2 separate regions of the Homo sapiens genome follow, and region 2 is linked to region 1. A link means that fine-mapping ties the variant in region 1 to the expression of a gene that starts in the linked region. Tissue or cell type: subcutaneous fat. Region 1 holds a variant in brackets; the other region holds the start of a gene. All regions are shown on one strand. Distances are between the middles of the regions.

Region 1 (8,106 bases):
AGATTTATTCACTATCACAAGAACAGCATAAGAAAGACCTGCCCCCATGATTCAATTACCTCCCACCAGGCCCCTCCCACAACACGTGGGAATTCAAGATGAGATTTGGGTGGGGACACAACCAAACCATATCAGACTTCTTCCATAAGTGGTTTTGGCTCCAGACACACAGTGAAGTCACCTGTGATGACCATTAAGCTGACTTTGGAAGTCACCTGTGAGCTTCCAAAAACACCTGCGCCTATGGTTCTAACTACATAGATTTGACTTCACTGGACCTGGATGTAGTCTGAATTCTGGGAGTGCAAATGTTCTTCTTGTGAGTCTAACAACCTCTAAATGGATATGATAATGCCTAGATCCCAAGACAGAAACAAATGTATAGTGAGCATCAAACTGGTTTGGGATGTGGGAGGCAGAGGATGCCATGGGTCAGGGAAAATGGGAGATCCTGAATTTGCCAATCTTTCTTATAAAGAAGGTTATATTTTCCTCAGAAGAGTAAATCAAACCCAATTTTAAACTTGATTTAGACAAAACATGTGTCTGCACATGGGTGTCTATCCCTTAAGGATGTAAGAGTTGTTGTACTATCCATCTATATTTATGACATATAGTTCTCTACAGGGAGAAAAATGCTGTAATTTTCTTTTATTTGAGGCCAACTCTGTTTTTTGGCCATGTGTTCAGCCATAAGTGGAACTGGCTGACTTTTAATTTTCCACGAGTATCATAAAGAATAGAAATGGAAAGTAATAAAGAGAAAGTGATTGAGTGGGCAATATTTTCCTTTTAGCTCCCAAAGAGAATGGCCAATATTTTTCAACCCTAAGGAATGCCTGTCATTTATTCTCAGAAGCAATGTAGGAATTCATGGGCTACCTCAAGAGATGCCATGAGAACAAAAGTGTAGACCCAAAACAAAGGTAGCTAGTGTCAGCACGTGATGTATGATGCAATTTGAAGACCAGGGAGAATTTGAAGGGATAAAAGGAGGGACATTGTGTCTCACAATAGAATCACGTAAGGGAAAAGATGTGCAGTGTGCCAAGTGAGTGTTTTCCAATTGGCAGTAGACAACAACTCTTCTACTGAGAAATAGTATGGGGGGAAGGAGAAAGAGAAGGCTAGAGATATGTTGCCTCTCTATTGGAACAACTCTTTGAAAAATGTGTATAGAAAACTTCTAAGTGTCCCAAGACCACAGACATATAGGATGTAGATTTGGCCATGGACCTTTGGCAATGGAACATTTGTACTCCCAGAATCCAGACTACACCCAGGACCAATGAAGTCCAATCCCTATAGGCAGAACCATTGGTGCAGGTGTTTCTGGATGCTCACAGGTGACTTCCAAAGTAAACTTAAAGGCCATCACAGGTAACTGGGGCCCAGACCACTCAAGGAAGGAGGCTCACAATGTGGTTGGGTGTCTCAGAATCAGAGAGACCCATGCAGTGTCCCCTAACTCTGATTTCCACTGGCAATAGGTGCACTTCTACTCTTTCCCTATGACAGCCTGATGGCTCTTGCTGTCCTCCTCACTGCTTAAGAAGATATTATGTCCCTGTCCAGAAGTCGACCCTCTAAACATAGACCTGGCCATGCTCATTCATTCTTTCAATAGCTATTGATGGCTCCAGGATGCCTAACCCTAACCTAACCCTACTGCTAACCCTAACCCTACCCCTACCCCTAACCCTAGACAGGGCCATGAGTGAGAACACTGACGTTTCCATTGAGTTCACATTCTAGACAAAGAGTCAGACACAGTACAATAAACACTAACCTCACATAGGAACTGTTTCCAAAAGTGAATCAGGGCAAAGAGGAAGGAGAAGGTAATTTTGGAAAGGGACAGGTGAAAAGCTATTCTGAGGAGGTGGTGTTGGAATAAATAATTCAGTTTTTGGAGAAAGAAGATTCCAAGAAGAGGGGCCAGCAGGTGCAAAAGGCCTGGGGTGCATTTGTCTTGTGGGAAATTTGAACAGCAGGATGATGAGTGTGTGAGTCTCCTGTGGTTGCTGTTACATGGGTCTGTAGGGTGATAAAATGAGAACATTTTAGTCAAATATTTCAGTGCCCAGTTTGAGGACAGTAGGTTGATAAACCAGCCAGGAATATTCCAGGCTTTCTCTCATCCATTTGCAAGACTGAAACTGGCCTTGTCTGTACCATGTTTCAATAACAGGCTGCCTTATTAACATGTACTCCTGTAGGATAGGAAAAACGCTGACTCAATAACACTGCCTGAAAAAAAATGCAACAAAATATGTTTTTCCTCTTTCTCCCTCTCTTCTTATTCCTCCTCCCTCTCCTCTAATTGTATAAAGTGATATCTTATTATCTTCATTTTTATTTCTCATTACATTTTGATTTTGGCATCTCCTCGTACTCATTGAATGAGTTTTCTAGGGATGTTGCAATGCATTCCCACAAGTTCAGTGGCTTAAAACAACACACATTGAGTATCTTCCAGTTCTGAAAGTCAGAGTCCAAAATGAGTCTCCCTGGGATAAAATTGACATATTGGCAGGACCCCGTTCCTTCTGGAGGCTCTACACAGGGAGGATCTATTTTCTTGCCATTTCTAGCTTTTAGGAGTGTCAACTAAAAATAAAATCCTAACACCCCCTCCCCACCCCTGCACCCCTGCTCCCTGGTTATCTGAACTGATCCCTCCTCTCAGCCAAGGGCACTCCAAAGTTAACCTGAAAAACTGGTTCAGGCCATGATGGGAAGTGGAAGCTGGACATGCCTCATCATGCCCTCCTCCCTTTTGGAATCACTGATAGAACAGACTCTCTAACTCTGATAAGAAACCTTTATAATCTATTCTCTCTGGAGCCTGCTACCTGGAGGCTTCATCTTCATCATAAAACCTTGGTCTCTACAACCCCTTATCATAACCCAGACATTCCTTTCTACTGATAATAACTTTTTCAACCAATTGGAAGCCCCTCTTCCTGCCACTTTGAGTTGTCCTGCTTTTCTGGACCAAACAAATATACATCCTACATGTATTGATTGATGTGTCATGTCTCCCTAAAATACATAAAACCAAGCTGTACTCCAGCCAGCTTAGGCAGATGTCATCAGGACCTCCTGAGGCTGTGTCAAGGGCACACCCTTAACCTTGGCAAAATAGACTTTCTAAACTGATTGAAATCTGTCTCAGTTACTTTTGGTTTAATGGGAGCTACCAATGTTTCTTGACTCATGGCCCCTTTCTCCATCTGCAAAGCCAGCCATAGCCACCAGGTCTAGTCTTTCTCAAGTTGCCACCTCTCTAGTTCTCCCTCCCCGCAACATTTTAAGGACCTTAGTGGTCACAAGGGACCACCTGTGTTACTCAGGATACTCCCCTTATTTTAAGATCAACTGATGAGAGAAAACTTAATTCCATATACAACCTGAATTTCCTACTGCCATGGTGCATAACACTTGTATAGGCTCTGGGAAGTAGGACATGACATCTTTGGGATGGGAGAGA[T/A]CACCCTGTCTGCTATATGCATTCAAACTATTCGAGTTTCTTCTTGTAAGAATTATCATTGCTACCCATTTTGCCTTTCCTCGTGGGTTTTATTTTCATCTTAATAGGCATACTGGCCAGGAGCAGTGCCTCATGCCTGTAATCCCAGCACTTTGGGAGGCTGAGGTAGGAGGATCGCTTGAGCCCAGGAGTTTGAGACCAGCCTGGCCAACATGGCGAAACCCCATCTCTGCTAAAAATACAAAAAATTAGCTGGGCGTGGTGGTGCACGCCTGTAATCCCAGCTACTCAGGAGGCTGAGGCACAAGAATCGCTTGAACCCAGGAGGCGGAGGTTGCAGTGGGCCGAGATAGCACCACTGAACTCCAGCCTAAGTGACAGAGTGAGGCTCTGTCTCAAAAAAAAAAAAAAGTAGAAAGATTATTTTTAAAAAATAATAATAATAGGCGTACTTTGTATAGTTTAGGTATTAGCCCCTCATCAGTTTGACACTGTGTGTGTGTATGTGCATGTGTGTATGCGCGTGTGTGTGCGTGTGTGTATGTGTGTGCACGTGTGTATGTGCATGTGTGTGTGCACGTGTGTGCATGTGTAAGTGTGTGTGCGTATGTGCATGTGTGTATGTGTGTATGTGTGCGTGTGTGTGTATGTGCATGTGTGTGTATGTGCGTGTGTATGTGTGTACTGTATGTGTGCATGTGTGCACGTGTCTGCATGTGTGTGCATGCATGCGTGTGCACATGTGTGTATGTGCATGTATGTGCATGTGTGTATGTGCACGTGTGTATGTGCATGTGTGTGTTTATGTGTGTGTATGTGTGCGTGTGTGTGTTGCGTGTGTGTGTGTGTATGTGAGTGTGTGTGAGCACTTTTCTGTGAGGTATTTCTAAAATATTTTTCTTTCTTCTCACAATTCAAATACTTAACCAGAATACCTCTAGTTGCTATTTTTCTTTCCATAACTTTCATCTGGGACTAATTAAGAACCAGATAGCCAGAAAGGTCCTATGAATTATTATTTTAAGAATAAAGACAATGTTATTTTGTAGATGTTACAAAAATACAATGAATTGATTTCCAAGAACACCGTGCACTCTTTTTTGTTTGTTTTTAGTGTCTCCAATAATTTATCTTGTAGGTAACCTATCCTCACAGAAGCACTCAGGGCAGAAGAGGAGACCGAGGTTTCTGTGCAATTATTTATTTGGAAATGGAGCCCATTCCCTTCCTGGAGCAGGAGCTCAGGAAGTGGAGGGAAGGACGTGAAACAGGAAAAGAGGAAAAGCCCATTTGAGGATTTATGACTGGATTTGCTGCCAAAGTTGCAACTACAGTTTTTTAGGATAACTGTAAGGCTGCACTGGGGAGATGAAAGAGGAAGCTATTTCTCCATCTCCTTCCGTCCTCTATGGGTGAAGGATGGCTCCTTCTCTCTTCTGATCCTGAGTGCTGGAAAGCTCAAGAAATTCTTCTGAGAATTGAGTGAGTTCAGCCAGCCTGGATTCCCTGGAATTCTGGTGAAGCCTGACTGGGGTAAGAACAAAGATTGAGAAGGTTTGACTTGGTAGACAACCAGTACCTCATGAATAGATATCCTGTAACATAAAATAGTGGTAATACTAATAATAATTATCATTATTATTAGCAATAATGCTGCAGGTTTGTCGTTACTGCCTATGTATATTTTTTCCAGGATGAAAAAACTTCCTCCACATTCTAGGAGAGAATTTCGCTTCACGAGTAGGTAGTCCACAGAATCCTAACCTCACAGGATGGTTCATTCAAAACAGATTCAATGATAAAACACACTTTAGAAAGGTTAAATATATGTTATCCTTGGTAGTGACTCATAACCCTGTTAGTTATGGCTGTGTAACAAATTAACCCCAACACTGAGCCATTTAAAGCCACACACAACACACATGTATTGTCTTGGTTTCTGTGGGCTTGGGATCTGAGGATGAGCCGGCATGGTTAGCTGGGTCTCACAGCTGAGGGTCTCTTAGGAGTTTGCAGTTGAGGTGGAGGTGGGGGCTACAGCATCTCAGGGCTTGACTGCAGAGGGATTTGCTTCCAAGCTCACTCACATTGCTGTTGGTGGGATTCAGTTCCTCACTGGCTGTTGTCCAGAAGGTTCCTTTCATTCTGAGTCACGTGGACTTCTCCATTGGGAAGCTTACGACGCACAGGCTGACTTCCCTCATAGCAAGCACCCAATCAAGCCAGTGAGGGGGATGAGGAATATGGAAGCCACAGCCTTTGTGTAACCTAATTTTGGTAATTGCATTCCATTGCAGTCAACACATTGTGTTCATTAGAAGCAAGTCGTGCATCCTGCCTACACTCAGGGAAAATGATTATACAAGGGAATGAATGCCAGGAGTGGGGGGTTCTTGAAGTTTCTCTTAGAGTGAGCTTTCCTATGTTGGCAACATATGCAGAATCTCTAGTATATCAGGTTCAATCAGGAAGAGATAACCTGCAAAATGGGACAAAATATTTGCAAACTCTGCATCCAACTAATATTCAGAATCTACAGGGAACTCAACAATAACGAAAAAAATCCGTATAACCCTATTAAAATGTGGTTAAAGAACATGAACACACAGTCTTCAAAAGAAGACATATCAATGGCCAAAAAGCATATGAAAAATTGCTCAACATGACCAATCATCAGAGAAAAGCAAATTGAAACCATAATGAGATATATTCTTATTTCAATCAGACTAGCTATTTTTTTTTGAGACAGAGTCCCACTCCGTCACCCAGGCTGTAGATAATTTGATTATTACTGCCATGCCTTGGTATTTGTGTTTCAAGAGCTGCCAGCAACTGCTATTAAAGGATGCATTTATAAACATCCCTGTGAAATTGATCACTGAGTCAGCTCCTGAAATATCTGGAAAGACTGTGTCCACTTTATGTATCTCTCCTCTATATATAGGAAGTCCCAAGAAAATGGGAGTCCAGTATCAAAAAAGGATTTGCTTCTTAAATAGCACCACACTTTCTTCTATTTAATATTGAAAACTGTCAAGGACTATGTTCTTTCTTTATTTAGACTGCCAGAAAGTACAGACACATCATCATCTGTGTTCATCCTCGTGGTTTCATTGTCAGCCCTCACTGTCATATCACCCTGGTTTTCTATCACTCATTTATAATCTGTATTCTTTATATCCTATTTTTAGTTGCATTTTGTATATCTTATATTATTCTGTTTCTTCTTTCCTGAAGCGTCCTCCTTCTTTTCAAAGGACAAGGCAAGGCCAGACATGATTGCTCATGCCTGTAGTTCTAGCATTTTGGGAGGCTGGGGTGGGGGGATCACTTGAGCCCAGGAGTTAAAGATTAGTCTGGGCAACATGGCAAGACCTTGTCTATAAAAAATAAAAAAATTAGCCCAACATGGTGGTGCACACCTGTATTCCCAGCTACCTGGGAGTGGGAGGTGGGAGAATCACTTGATCCCAGGAGGTCAAGGCGGTAGTGAGCTATGATTGCACCACTGCACTCCAGCCTGGGAGACAGAGCAAGACCCTGTCTCCAAAGAAAGAAAGAATAAAGGACAAGGCATGGCCTGTAAGTTGACAACCAACAAAAGAATCACTACAATTACAAACTGCCCTCCAATTTGGAGCAGTTCTGGTGGCTCAGACCATGTGGTTAAATACCCTGGTTTCTAATGACTTTGAGGGTGTGAGGTTTCCCATACACATACACAGCACAGCTTCTCAGAGGTCTGAAAATGGTTTCCTTTTCTGGTTTGCACTCTCCGCTCGTAGGTTTTACAACAGACATAAATGTTCATGTCCTATGTAGCATGTTCAACAATTGTGCAATGTATAATTTCACCATTTGCAAGGATACTAAGTGAGTGGAAAACTGAATTTATAACGTTGATGTACATTACACCTGTTGCCTGATGTATTAGTCAGGATAAAAGAGAACTAATAGAATGTGTTTGTGTGTGCATGTAGTTGACCCTTGAAGAACACAGCTTTCAACTTATACGTGAATTTTCTTCTACCTTTGCCATCCCTGAGACAGCAAGACCAACCCCTCCTTTTCCTCCTCCTGCTCCTCAACGTGAAGACAGTGAGAATGGAGACCTTTAGGATGATCCATTGAAAATGAAAGTTTAAAAAAAGAATATATTGGCTGGGCATGGTGGCTCACGCCTGTAATCCCAGCACTTTGGGAGGCCGAGGCAGGCGGATCACGAGGTCAGGAGATCGAGACCATCCTGGCTAACACGGTGAAACCCCGTCTCTACTAAAAATACAAAAAAATTTAGCCAGGCATGGTGATGAGCGCCTGTAGTCCCAGCTACTCAGGAGGCTGAGGCAGGAGAGTGGCGTGAACCTAGGAGGCAGAGCTTGCAGCAAGCTGAGATCATGCCACTGCACTCCAGCCTGGGTGACAGAGTAAGACTCCGTCTCAAAAAAAAAAAAAGAACATATTTGCTAACATCATAAATAAATAAATAAATAGCAAATCTATTTTTTCTTCCTTATGATTTTCTTTCATGACATTTTCTTTTCTCTAGCTTACTGTATTGTAAGAATACAGTATTGAGGCCGGGCGTGGGAGCTCATGCCTGTAATCCCAGC
Region 2 (8,101 bases), 450 kb before region 1:
CTAAGTGTAAGTGTGCATTTATCTAAAGACATAAGTGATTAACTTCTTCTAATCTGTAATTAAGATCTGAGTCCTGAAGACCTTCCTCTGGAGCCTCGGTGAATTGACTTAATCTAGATGGGTCCAGGTGCTGGGGTGATTACCCTTATCTTGTCTCCTGCTAAATCACAGAGTTCTGGGGAGTTCCTTTAGTCCCCAACAAAGCTTGTTTGTGGAGGTCTGGGGAGTTTCTTCAGACCCACAATAAAACTTGTTTAATCCTAAATGGGTCCTGTTAAGAATTCCTTCGTTATCTTGTCATGCTTCAAAGGCCCAGGAGAGGCCTGGGCAGAACTCTTGGTGTGCTTTTGTTACATCCCAGCCTGTGCATAAAGGCGCTGGTTGTTTCAGCTTTTAGTATGTAACTTCACACTCAGTCAGTGCTGAAACAGTTGTTACGGAGGCCTGCATTAGTGAGACCTGGCCTGCCACACTAGACCATACAGGTCAGAACAAACTGGAATGGAGTCACTTGTGTTAACTGCCACATCGTCAAGCTGAACAGGGAAACAGGTCAGTTTTCCAAAAAACAGAAGATTTGAGTAAGCAAGAAGAAGATGTGTAGTTCATCTGAGCTAACAAAGTCTCCCGTGCTTTAACCCTGTAAGAAAAGTAACTTTGAAACAACCAATCTGCTTTATTATTCTTTTTTTTCTTTTTTTTGAGATGGGGTCTTGCTGTGCTGCCCAGGCTGTAGTGGCATGATGGTGGCTTACAGCAACCTCTGCCTGATTCTGAGGTGGGAGGATTGATTCAAGCAGTCCTTGAACTGCAGTGGATAGGTGGTGTCTTAGTGTTGGGGGATCGTGGCTGTGCTCTCCGGGGAGGACGCGAACGAGGGGTGTGTCTCAGGGTGTGTGAGGGGACACGGCTCTACTGGGGGGCAGGGGAGGAATAAGGCCATGGGGAGGGATCCGGTGTGGCCAGCAGGGCAATGGCCGCGGAAGGGGACAGGACGGGGCGTGTCTTGGAGGGTGGCGAGAGGCACGGCAGTGCTGCTGAGGCAGGAGAATAGGGTCTGGAGGCAGGGAACCTAAGGCTTTCCATGCCGACTTCCTAGAAGTAAATTGAAAGGAAAATCCTAACTTTCCTTTTTTTTTTAATTTTAATTTTTATTATTATTTTTTGAGATGGAGTTTCACTCTTGTCGCCCAGGCTGCAGTTCAATGGCATGATCCGGGCTCACTGCAACCTCCACCTCCAGGGTTCAAGCGATTCTCCTGTCTCAGCCTCCTGAGTAGCTGGGATCACAGGTGCCTGCCACCACGCCCGGCTAATTTTTTTGTAATTTTAGTAGAGGCCCGGCCTAATTTTTGTATTTTTAGTAGAGACGGGATTTCACCATATTGGCCATGCTGGTCTCAAACTCCTGACCTCAGGTGATCCACCCGTCTCGGCCTCCCAAAGTGCTGGGATTACAGGCATGAGCCACCTCGCCTGGCGGGAAAATCCTAACTTTCCATGCCTAAGTAACAAAAGGACCGAAGGCTTCCCTTTGACCTTTTCTATTGGGTAGATAGTAGACTGGCTGTCTGCAACCAATCGGACTGATTTCGGGTCTAGTCTTCGTGTGCAACTTTGTGACTTCACCCTAGTCTCTGATTAGTTGGGTTTTGCAACCAATCAGATGTTTGCACAGGAGTGTGACCTTTGTAACTTCACCCTTTGGTTGGCTGCTGCCTGCAACCAATCAGACTGATCGCGGGCCACCACTTCAGTTACATGAGGTGAGCATGAAGTGGCCAATGGGAAACTTCTAGGGGGTATTTGGACCCAAGAAGATTATGTACCCGGGCCCTTGAGCCGCTGCTTGGTCGGCTCCCACACTGTGACGTGTCCTTTTGTTTTCAATAAATCCCTGCTTTCCTTCTTTTGTTGCTTCATTCTTTCTTTGCTGGGCGTTTTGTCCAATTCTTTGTTCAAAACGCCAAGAACCTGGACAACTTGCAGTCACGACCCTCTACCGGTGGCACTGGGGCGCAAATGAAGCTGGGAATGCAGGACCCGGCGCATCTGAGGAAGTGCAGCGGGGCATGGCGGTGCTAGAGGGTGGGGACATGGAGGCGGCACAAGGCCAAGGCGCCGGGGGATGGCCAGAGGGAAGTAACGGCCGCGCTTGTGGTGGAGATGGGGACGGGACAGAGAAGTCTTGGGGGGTGACCGGGGTAGGCACGGCGGTGCTGGGGGGAGGGCGCCCAATGAAGCCCACGGGGGGGAAAGGGGCGTGTCTTACCGAGCGTGTTGGGGGAGTCACAGCCGTGCTTGGGAGGATGGGGTCTGGGGGAAGGACGGGGCGCGTCTTAGTGGGATGAGGGGGAGGGCACAGCCGTGCTGGGAAGGCAAAGGGCCGGGGGGCGGGATGGAGCATGTCATGGTGGGGCCGAAGAGGCGGGGGGCGGGAAGGGGCCTTCTTAGAAATCGGGAGGGCGTCACAGCTGTGCTCGGGAGGACGGGGCGTTGGGGAGGGACAGGGAGCGTCTTAGTGGACCCGGGGAACACGGCCGTGCTGGAAGGCATCGAGCTGGGGGGTTGGGGGCGGGACGGGGTGCCTCTTAGGAAGTGGGGCGGGCAAGGCTACGCTTCGGGGGATGGAGCCTTGGGGCGGGACGGGGCGCGTCTTAGTGGGGCAGAGCGGGGGGCGCGGTTCGGGGCGGGTCTTAGGGAGCCTTTGAAGGCCGAATCCGGGCAGCGGTGTAGCTGGGCGTGGAAGGCGGAGGACCCAGCAGGGCGTGACCGGCCCAGTTTCCGCTCCCTCCGGGTCCCGGCCAGCCTTCCTCCGCCCTCCCTTCCCTTCCTCCTTTGTTCTCTTTCCCTGCCCTTCCGCCTTCCCTTCAGTTCGGTCTCCTCCACCCGCCCTTCGTCCCCTCAGTCGCCCCCCATCCCTGGGCTCTGCTGTCTGGCGTCTTTCCCGGGCACAGAACGCGCCTCCAGCTACATTTTGGAGACTACAAGGCGCCGGACACAACCACGCCCTTTACAGGGGCCCAGGCTCGCCCGGGGCGCCCCTCGCCGTGCTCGCGACCCCCTCCCCAGGCCCCCACCCTAGGCCTTAGTATGGGCCGCGTCCCGGGGTCCCAGGCACCTGGCGGCGGGCGCGGCGCGTCCCCTCCGCGCGGCGGATCGCATGGCCGAGCGCTGGCCCAGAGCGCAGGACCTTGCCCTGCGCACTCCGCGCCCGGGCGCCGCTAGTGCCAAGGCTTCCGCCCTCTCAGCTGCGGGATCTGGGCCGGGCGCCCGCCCCTCCTTCATCCGCGTCATCTCCTGGCTCTCGGGACCTCCGGGACCTGCGCGTGGAAACAGGTTTTCCCAGGTCGTCACACGGGAAGGCCTGGGCTAAGGAGCTGATTAAACCCAGTTACGATTGACCGGGCGCGGTGGCTCCCGCCTGGAATCCCAGCAGTTTGGGAGGCCAAGACGAGTGGGTCACCTGAGGTCAGGAGTTCGAGACCAGCCTGGCCAACCTGGTGAAACCCCGTCTCTACTAAAAATACAAAAATTAGCTGGGTGTGGTAGTTCACGTCTGTAGTCCCAGCTATTCGGGAGGCTGAAGCAGGAGAGTTGCTTGAACCCGGGAGGTGGAGGTTGCAGTGAGCTGAGATCGCGCCACTGCAACTCCAGCCTGGGCGACAGAGTGACACTCCGTCTCAAAAAATAAATAAATAAAAATAAAAAATAAACCCAGTTAGGCTTGAGCACAGGGAGCCCCTTTTCTTTTTGTCAGGAAGGGTCTTAGGACCTACCCAGAGCAATCAAGTTGCGATTTCAGTTTCTCAAAGCTTGGTGTTTGAAATGTCTGTTCCGGATGCTGGACTTGTACTCTAAGTCTGGGACGGGGAATGCTAGATGGGCCCTTTTTTTTTGCTTTTATTACTATTATTATTATTATTTTGAGATAGGGACTCACTCTGTCGCCCAGGCTGGAGTGCAGTGGTGCGATCTCGGCTCAGTGCAACCTCCGTCTCCTGGGTTCAAGCGATTCTCCTGCCTCAGCCTCCCGAGTAGCTGGGACTACAGGCGCGTGCCACCACGCCCGGCTAATTCCAATTGCTATTTTTATCTTTGTTTCTTTCATCAGACTGCTGTTGAAATTACTCCTTTTGATTAATCACTGTGCCCTGGACCCCTCCCCATCTTTTCTGTGACTCATCCTTTTGTTTTTGAATGATGCTATTTTGCTCATTACCCTCTCACGTAATGCTTTTTTTGTATCTTTGGCTCTCCCTTTGTTGTTTGTTTGTTTTGTTTTTAACTCTTTTGACCTCTAGAAAGATCAAGGCTGAGAGTTGAGGCTGCAGTGAGCCTTTGTTTTTGTCTAACTCTCTTGACCTCCAGTCGCTGATTCTCTCAAGCCCCTTCATGTCTTACCTCATCCCCTCACATCCCCTCACAATGCAAGATCTGGTCAAAGTATAAATTCATATTTTGTAGGAAATGCTAGCTTACAAAACAATATCACATCCCTACCTCCAGCCCAGGTGACCCACTTTCCCTCAAAGGGGGTTGCTTAGGTCCTCTTCCACTGGTCAGGGACAAAATGATTCCATAGTCTTCAAGATTAACAGTACTTTCTTTTTCCAAGGCTGAGGCTGTCAAGGGTGAGGCTGTCACCGCCTCCCAAGGAAGTGGAACTACCGGTGTGCACCACCACCCCTGACACATTTTTGTTAATTTATTTTTTTGCTAGAGACTAGGTCCCACTATGTTGCCTAAGCTGGTCTCAAACTCTTGCCTCAAGCAGTCCTCCTGCTTTGGCCTCCCAAAGTACTGGGATTACAGGTGAGCCACTGTGCCTGACCAGCCACAAGACTCTATGTTGGGTGTGTAGGTGGGAAGCATATCCAGGTCCTCCTCACCATTATTCTGCCTCCAACATTTATGCCATTTTTTTTTCCTTTGCAACTCAGTTCTCTATGCTTACCAAATGGAATCAGTAAGGTAGGGGAGGCGGGGTGGAAGTTTGTGTTGAAAACATAGATTCAGAAGCCCCTCCTTAAATTCACTGAGTTAGGATTTTCATAAATGAGGGAGCTGCCCCACACTCCCCTGGGATGAGATGATGGGGGTGCTTGTTCAAGACAATACAGTCAGGAGCCCTACTCCCTAAATTTATTCAATTGGAATCTCCCAAAATGGTGCTGGGAATTCTATTTAGAAAAAAGACCATTCACTTTTAATTGGCAAATTTAGTTCATTTACATTTATTACGCTGGCCATCTGTCTGGAGCTAGCTCTTGAGCACTGTTTATTGCTTCTCTCTTTGCCCTGTTACTCTGAAATAGCTTTTATCAGACAGGCTTGGTGGCTCACACCTGTAATCCCAGCACTTTGGGAGACTGAGGGGGAAGGATTGCTTGAAACCAGGAGTTTGAGAACAGCCTGCGAAACACAGAGAGACCCTGTCTCTACAAAAAAATTTTTTTAAGTTAGCCGGGCATGGTGGTGTGCCTGTAGTCCCAGCTATTTGGGAGGCTGAGGTGGGAGAGTCATCTGAGTGCAGGAATTTGAGGTTGCAGTGAGCTGATTGCACCGTTGCACTCCAGACTGGGTGACAGAGCAAGACCCTGTCTCTAAAAAAATTTAAAAAAGAACTTTTTTATCTTTGAGGGCTTCCCAACTGGGATTCCTTGCTGAGCCTCTGTCATGCAGATGGAGAAGGCCAGGCCGAGGCCTGGAAGGAGGGGGGCAGGAGACAGCCCAGAAGCAGTTCTGCAAGGAGGTTTAGCAGGGGTGGCGCGGAGATTTGATCCTTGGAAGAAATCCTATGCTGCTGGGAGTTGAGATTCCTGAGAACTAGAGAGAAAAGAACTTTGGGTGCCCTTAGGTAAATTATGTAAACACACTGAGCTGTCTTGGGTGCCCAGGATTTGGAAATGGGGCCTGGGGGCAGTAGGAGCTGGTGCTCCAGAAGTCATATTTGCGGGAGGTTGTGGGGATGGAAAGGGTGGGTAAGCCCTGACCCTGAGGGTCTCACATGACTTTCAGCACATGGAGCCTCCATGGGGACTTTGGCTTCAAAGCCATCAAGCTCAAGAGTGTGGGCAAGTGTGGAGACAGAGGTGACTCTCCCCAGTGGATGCTGAAGAACTTAAAGGTGACTCTGTGGGCCGGGAACATCGGGCACAGCTGACCCAAAGTGCTGGTCTTGTTCCATAAGCCATGGCTATGGGGAAAGCCATAGGGGTTAACTGGTTCTTCCTGCCATCCCTCCCTCCCTTTCTTCCTTTTTCTTTTTGCTTCTTTGCTTTCCTTCCTTCCTGCCATTTTTTCCTTCCTTTCTTTTTAGAGATGAGGTCTCGCCCTGTCGCCCAGTGGCACGATCACAGCTCAGTGTAGCCTTGGACACTTTGGGAGGCCAAAGGCTCAAGTGATCCTCCCGCCTCAGCCTCCCAAGTAGGTGGGACTATAGGCACGTGTCACCACACCTAATTATTTAAATGTTATGCGGAGGCAGGGTCTCGCTATGTCACCCCAGCTGGTCTGAAACTCCTGGCCTCAAGCCATCTTAGTGCCCTAAAGTGCTGGGACTACAGATGTGAGTCACCGCACCTGGCCTACTATTTCTTTCTTGACCCAAGAGAATTGGCTGGAGATGGATTTGACTTTTTGGTCTGTATGCACAGCCTGAATTCTTGGAGGCTGATGTGGATTGGATAATTTGAGGACATGTTCTTGAGGCGGTGACAAGGTGGGGCATTGCTCGTCACATACCTAGGCTTGGAAGAGTGGGAGGAGGGACCTGTTGCTTGAATCTGGAGACAGAAAGAGCTATTGGAAAGACCTCCTTACTCCCAGGGGAGAATGTGCTGGGGACTGAATTGTGTTGCCTTCAAACTCACAGGAATAAGGTTTTTATTCATCCTTTAAAATGAGGTCACAAGAGTGGGCCCTATTCCAATAGGAGTGGGGTCCTTATAAGAAGAGGAGATTAGGGCCGGGTGCAGTGACTCACGCCTGTAATCTCAGCACTTTGGGAGGCCAAGGTGGGCGGATCACTTGAGGTCGGGAGTTCTAGACCAGCCTGGGCAACATGGTGAAAACCCACCTCTACTAAATAATACAAAAATTAGCCGGGCATGGTGGTGCACGCCTGTAGTCCCACCTACTCGGGAGGCTGAGACAGGGGAATCACTTGAACCTGTGGCAGAGGTTGCAGTGAGCTGAGATCACGCCATTGCACTCCAGCCTGGGCAACAGAGCAAGACCCCATCTCAAAAAAAAACAAAAAACAAAAAACAAGAATCAGAGATAGGACACAGACAGGCACAGAGGGATGACCGTGTGAAGACATGGGAAGAAGGCAGCAGCTGTGAACCGAGAAACAGGTTCTCCCCAGACACAGCTTCCGTCACGCCGTGGTCTTGGACATCCAGCCTCTAGAACTGCAAGAAAGAAATATTCTTGATGATACCCAGTTTATGGTATTTTCATTCTAGCAGCCCAGACAATTAAGGCGCAGCCTGATTATGCAATGACCTTGCAGCTCAGAGCTGGGGCGAACACTTCCTGCACAGCGCGGCTTCCACAGCCAGAGTTTGCCCAAATCACCTGGGGCATTGGAGACAAAGGAAAACCACTTGAAAACAGTTCCAACGGGAAGCACGGCTCATCCTTGTGGCCGTAAACGATAAACAAACACTATAAATGGGCACCACAGACAAAGCCACATCAGTGCCAGTTTTTATCTTTGGGGCCTATCTCCTGTTCATGTGCAAACCTGTAGGTCACAGAGACACCTTTGCTGGGACTTGTGCTGTTTTGGGCTACAGGGCAGCCTCTTCCAGACTGAGCTGGGGTCCATTGACAGACTCCTCCCCGACTGCAGGAGATACTTTGCCTCTCCAGTTTGGTGTCTGAGTGATCATTCAACGGTGCATTATTAATGTTTGTTTGTTTATTTATTTATTTTTGATGAGACAGTCTTGCTCTGTCACCCAGGCTGGGGTGCAGTGGTACGACCTCAGCTCACTGCAACCTCTGCCTCCCGGCTTCAAGCAATTCTTCTGCCTCAGCCTCCTGAGTAGCTGGCATTATAGGCGTGTGCCACCACACCTGGCTGCTGCTG

Which allele goes with the higher level. Alleles are on the strand shown, and positions count from the first base shown. SD is a standard deviation of normalised expression in the study named.
For the expression in subcutaneous fat of the gene that starts at base 3,229 in region 2, allele A in region 1 goes with a higher level than allele T (moderate effect, 0.73 SD a copy in FUSION).

What was found. PIP is the estimated chance that this variant, and not a neighbour inherited with it, causes the effect.
Region 2: it holds the start of ARSD, and the variant in region 1 is fine-mapped to the expression of ARSD in subcutaneous fat (FUSION, PIP 0.95).

What each region holds. Positions count from the first base shown.
Region 1 is chrX:3,373,601-3,381,706 of GRCh38, forward strand. No RefSeq gene overlaps it. Among named protein-coding and RNA genes, the nearest start is that of MXRA5, 31 kb to the left of the region's middle. The variant T/A (reference allele first, on the strand shown) is at 3,494.
Region 2 is chrX:2,926,111-2,934,211 of GRCh38, forward strand. ARSD (arylsulfatase D) reads right to left here and starts at 3,229. Exons shown (of 10, transcript NM_001669.4): 1 at 3,122-3,229. The coding sequence starts at 3,165. RefSeq lists silencers at 2,717-2,876, 2,897-3,246.